2 separate regions of the Homo sapiens genome follow, and region 1 is linked to region 2. Evidence: fine-mapped expression QTL. A gene starts in region 2. The other region holds a variant in brackets. All regions are shown on one strand. Distances are between the middles of the regions. Region 1 overlaps CTC1 (CST telomere replication complex component 1). Region 2 holds the start of AURKB (aurora kinase B).

What was found. PIP is the estimated chance that this variant, and not a neighbour inherited with it, causes the effect. A credible set is the group of variants that fine-mapping cannot tell apart.
Region 1: its variant is the best candidate, but not a certain one, in a credible set for the expression of AURKB in whole blood (INTERVAL, PIP 0.83).

What each region holds. Positions count from the first base shown.
Region 1 is chr17:8,235,774-8,238,273 of GRCh38, reverse strand. It overlaps CTC1 (CST telomere replication complex component 1), which reads left to right. Exons shown (of 23, transcript NM_025099.6): 4 at 32-243; 5 at 755-899; 6 at 1,932-2,216; 7 at 2,315-2,443. Among named protein-coding and RNA genes, the nearest start is that of TRI-AAT4-1, 10 kb to the right of the region's middle. The variant A/G (reference allele first, on the strand shown) is at 1,495.
Region 2 is chr17:8,209,125-8,212,143 of GRCh38, reverse strand. AURKB (aurora kinase B) reads left to right here and starts at 1,569. Exons shown (of 9, transcript NM_004217.4): 1 at 1,569-1,614; 2 at 1,895-1,967. The coding sequence starts at 1,920. RefSeq lists enhancers at 2,067-2,116, 1,678-2,337.

The DNA of each region.
Region 1 (2,500 bases), 26 kb before region 2:
CTGATTAACCCTTGCTCTTGGTCTTTCTTAGCTCATAGACCTGGACCTTTCTTGGTTGGGCCATCTTTTTCTGTTCCCCCGTTGGAGTTACCTCCCTCCTGCCAGGTGGAATTCCTCAGGGGAAGGGCACTTGGAGCTGTGGGATGCCCCTGTGCCAGTGTTTCCTTTGACCATCAGTCCTGGCCCCGTCACGCCTATCCCTGTCCTCTACCCAGAGAGTGCTTCCTGCCTGCTCAGGCTCAGGTAATTTCCCCCTCTAGGCATGGCAGGGGCGCTGTAAAACTGAAGGATGATGCTGGGTCAGTGGAGGGAGAGAAAGAAAAGGGCATTGATAGTAATATAGACTGAATGTTCCAAATCAAGGGAATGGTGGGCTTTGAATATTAAGAAGGTAAAGAGAAGGGTTGTTCAAGGGATCTGTGCCTTACCTAAGGGAAAGAGAATTTTGAAGGTTTTTAGCATAGCTTGCTTTGGGCTATGGACATTTTGTATCATTACCAGGTTATTCTTTACTGTGGAAGGGACAGCATTTATAGGGAAAAAGAAGAGAAATAAAGATGACTGCTGCTGCTTTTTTTTTTTTTTTTTTTTTTTTTTTTTTTTTTTTTGAGACGTAGTTTCACTCCTGCTGCCCAGGCTGGAGTCCAATGGCGGGATCTCAGCTTACTGCAACCTCTGCCTTTCAGGTTCAAGTGATTCTCCTCCCTCAGCCTCCTGAGTAGCTGGGATTACAGGGCTTTTTCTTCCTTCTTAGAAACAAGCTCAGAGGTGTGCAGCGAAACCTGGCTGGGAGTCTAGTTCGATTGAGTGCTCTGGTGAAAAGTAAACAGAAAGCTTACTTCATCCTGTCTCTTGGTAGATCACACCCAGCTGTCACCCACGTGTCCATCATCGTGCAGGTGAGGACTGGGGTCATTTCAGCCATGGAAGTGGGGGAGGGTGGTAGAACTTTCAGTAGGAAAGATAGCATCATAGGAGGAGCCATGTAGGAAAGGAGGACAGCTGGGGAGAGCTGTTTTCTGGAATAGCGCTGTTGGGAGAAGATTCCGGGAAATGTTTGTGCATAGAGTTAGGGAGTAGACTTTCCCGCTGTGCAACTCACTTGAGCACACAGCTTTTAGATTGTATGTGACCTTTTAAAAAACTGCCACGCTCACTTGTGGAGATGACCAAAGAAATCATTCATCTTAACACCATTGAGACATTGAATACAGGCATTAAAAAAAAAAAAAAAACTTGGTACTTACTGTTGACTCTTTTTGCATCAACTGGTACAATTTTATTTTTATAATTTCAACTTTTAGACTCATGAGGTACATGTGCAAGTTTATTAACTGGGTATATTTTGTGATTCTGAGGTTTGGGGTATGATTGATCTCTTTACCCAGGTACTGAGCATAGTACCCAAGGTAGAAATTGTAAATCATTGATCTTTATTCTAACCATTGTTTTATGACATATAAGTTTCTGAATAATGTTTCTTTTCCTTTTTAT[A/G]GAAATTTTAAAAATATATGTATTTTGTAGAAATAGGGCCTTACTGTGTTAGAGAAGAACAGTTTGTCATACTTCCCTTGACATCAGTCACAATACTGGATACATATATACTCAATACACTTTGATTACATGAATGAATGTTGTTTGTGTGTTATGGGGCGGGATAGGGCACAGTTTTCTCAGTGGAATATTTATGTATTTTGAAGGAAGTTTTAGGGATGGTTTGTATGTTGGGGAAGTGGTTTGGAAATATTTGGCATCTCCTGTGAGAGAGGAGAGACGCTAAGATTTAGTTGGCAGACATAGGGAAGATGGAGAGGTGAGTTGAGACTCACAGAGGGCAGGTCTCTGAGTTCAAATCGTGAGGGAAAAGGACTCTGGCAGAGTGGCAGTGTTGGGGTCTCTTGTGTCACATTGCCTGTCTCTGCACAAGCCAGGTCCCTGCCCAGCTGGTGTGGCACAGAGCCCTTCGGCCTGGTACAGCCTATGTGCTGACAGAACTGCGAGTGTCCAAGATCCGTGGTCAGCGCCAGCATGTTTGGATGACCAGTCAGTCCTCCCGTCTGTTGCTGCTGAAACCAGAATGTGTGCAGGAGCTGGAACTGGAGCTGGAAGGACCCCTCTTAGAGGCTGACCCCAAGCCACTCCCCATGCCCAGCAACTCGGAGGACAAGAAGGATCCAGAAAGTCTTGTCCGGTATTCTAGACTCCTATCCTATTCGGTGAGCACAGGGAGAGATCCTAGAGCTTGAGGGGCCAGAAATGTGGGTTTTCAAAGAGGAAGAAAATAGTGGTCAACTGGACCTCGGCCTGTTTGCAGGGAGCAGTCACTGGCGTGTTGAATGAGCCCGCTGGCCTCTATGAGCTGGATGGGCAGCTGGGGCTCTGCCTTGCCTACCAGCAGTTCCGTGGCCTTAGGCGGGTGATGCGACCTGGAGTGTGTCTGCAGGTATGTGAGATCAGGGCTGATAACAAAAAGAGACCTCTGCAGCTTCTCTTACCTTCA
Region 2 (3,019 bases):
CCATAATCTGGAATAAAAGGTATTGATTAGTATAAGTTAATTGGGGCTCATTTCTGGACCTGCAATGAAGTCAGTTTCCTTCTCAAATCCTCAAAACTCTAAGTGCTTTCAGAAGTGGGAATAAAGCTGGGCGCAGTGGCTCACGCCTGTAATCCAAGCACTTTGGGAGACCAAGGCGGGCGGATCACCTGAGGCCAGCCTGAGCAATGTGATGAAACCCCGTCTCTACTAAAAATACAAAAATTAGCCGGGCGTGGTCACATGCACCTATAATCCTAGGTACTCGGGAGGCTGAGACAGGAGAATCAGTTGCACCCTGGAGGAGGAGGTTGTGGTGAGCTGAGATTGTGCCATTGCACTCCAGCCTGGGCAACACAGCGAATCTTCATCTCAAAAAAAAAAAAAAAAGTGAGATTTAAATAGGTCTTCATCAACCTAGGGATTTGGGGTTGTCAGCAACAGAAACTACTACAGAAACCGACTGCATAGACTGGAGAGACAGGTGGTCCCCTAAAGGAAAAATAGAGTGTTAGAAGAAAGGAGAAGAGTGCTGGACAGTACATACTTAATAAATATCCACTGGTTATTTCATAGAAGGCCCAAAAATGTATTTATTTAACCCAGTAATGAAATCTGAGGGTTAGGAAGAGCAGAAAAGAAGGAAGTGTGGCAGGAAGGAGGAAAAATGAAAGTGGGCCCAAACAACACGGCAGCTAACAGAGATCTTGCAACGAAAGGTCTATTGGTGGAAAAACTCCTCCCAGGAATGTCAGAACTTTTAAGAACGACATAGTAATGACACAAGAATAAACACACAGGCAAATGAGCAAACAACGGAATACAAAGTCTAGAAATAGACACAAGTAAATATGCTAACATTATATATCAAGGGCAGCATTTAAATTCTGTTGGGGCAGTTTGTTTAACAAATGGTGTTGACATAACTGGCGCTCCATCGGGCAGAGAAGTTAGACCCCAGCTCATACATGCATAAGGATAAACTCCAGTTACATTAAAGATTTAATTTTTTTTATAAAAAGAAGAAGGCCGGGCACGGTGGCTCACGCCTGTAATCCCAGCATTTTGGGAAGCCGAGGCGGGTGGATCACCTGAGGACAGGAGTTCGAGACCAGATTGGCCAACACAGCGAAAACCCGTCTCTAATAAAAATACAAAAATTAGCCAGGCGTGGTGGCGGGCGCTTGTAATCCCAGCTACTCGGGTGGCTGAGGCACGAGAATCGCTTGAACCCGGGAGGCAGAGGTTGCAGCAAGCCCAGATAGCACCATTATACTCCAGCCTGAGCGACAGAGAGAGACCTGTCTCAAAAAAGGAAAAAAAAAAAGAAAAGAAAAAGCAAGATAATTCACTGGGGGAATTTGGGGAAACTTTCCTAAACTGGAAGCCAAGCGTGAGCCCTTCTCATTCCGCCTCTTCCATTGGGTTCCCATGACTTACGTCACAGGACATCGAGCCAATGGGAACTAGGCATGGGCGACGAGCTTGCCCAATGGGGCCGGGGCGGGAGATTTGAAAAGTCCTTGGCCAGGGCGCGGCGTGGCAGATTCAGTTGTTTGCGGGCGGCCGGGAGAGTAGCAGTGCCTTGGACCCCAGGTGAGCTGGCCTCCTGTCGCAGGCCTTGCGCCGGGAGTGGGCAGATGATCAGGTAGATCAGAGGGTCCGTTGGGCTGGCCTGCGCGCACGCCGCAGGGCTGGAAGGAGGTAGGGACGATAGCAGGGCGGGGGCGGTGAGACCAGCGCCCAGATTGGGGCTAGTGTGCTGACCTGCTCCCTTTTACCAGCTCGGGCTAGCGCTTCCGGCTCGATCGGTCCAACCCCTCCCTCTCTCTCTCTTTTTCTCTGCTTCTCACGGCTGTTTCCCTTCTCCGCCCAGCTCTCCTCCCCCTTTCTCTCTAAGGATGGCCCAGAAGGAGAACTCCTACCCCTGGCCCTACGGCCGACAGACGGTAAGGCCCTTCCCTCCGTCCCTGCGCCCCCATGACCCCGCATGGCGAGTTCCTGCTGGGAAACTTGAGATCCTGCAATGAGCAATCCTTTAAGCACTTTCTTCCCCGTTATGCTCCAAAGTACGGGTCCCAAGTTTGACGACAGAACCCGCTCTGGTCATTTGTAGCCACATCCTGTCAGGTGCTGCCAACGTGAATCTGACCAGCCAGTGACTCCCAGCTGGTGAGGACCTCTGCAGGGCTCGTCACATACAAATGATATCTGGGACTGAGCAGGCAGGGCCTGGCCTTCAGGCCATGATTCCCAATCCATATCCTGAAAAAAAAAAAACTAGACAGCAAATAGAAATAGACTCTAAAAGGATATAAAGTTACAGTTTAAAAGGCCCAGGGCAAGTCTAAATTACAATTTGGAATTAATGACTAAATTGAGGTAAGAATCTAAATGGATCTAAATTGACTTATTTCCCAATGGTCCAGACAGATTTCATTGAAGGGCCTCCTCTCTGATTTGAAATGCCACCTTTATTATATATATAAATTCCCACATATATGTGGGTCTATTTCTGGACTGTATTTTATTCAACTTGCTTATTTGTAGATTGGTACCAATATCACTATTTGGGGCCTAGGGGCTTTCTTCTCTTGGCTGCAGAAGAAGGAAGGGGCCCTGCACAGGCTTTGCTCCCTGTTTTTGGAGCTCTTGCTTCCTGGAGAGTCTGTCTGTTCCCTTGTACATCAGCTCCCTCCCTCATGGAGCACTGAGTGAGGCTGTCAGGAATGGAGTCTGAATGAGAAACCATTGTCACTTTTACCTTAGTCACTCCTAAAAGAAAATGTACCTATTATTTTGAGAGTTGAAAGTGAGGCCAGGTAGGTGGCTCACGCCTGTAATCCCAGCACTGGGAGGCTGAGGCAGGTGGATCACCTGAGGTCAGGAGTTCGAGACCAGCCTGGCCAACATGGTAAAACCCCGTCTCTACTAAAAATACAAAAATTAGCCAGGCATGTGCCTGTAATCCCACCTACTCAGGAGGCCGAGGCAGGAGAAT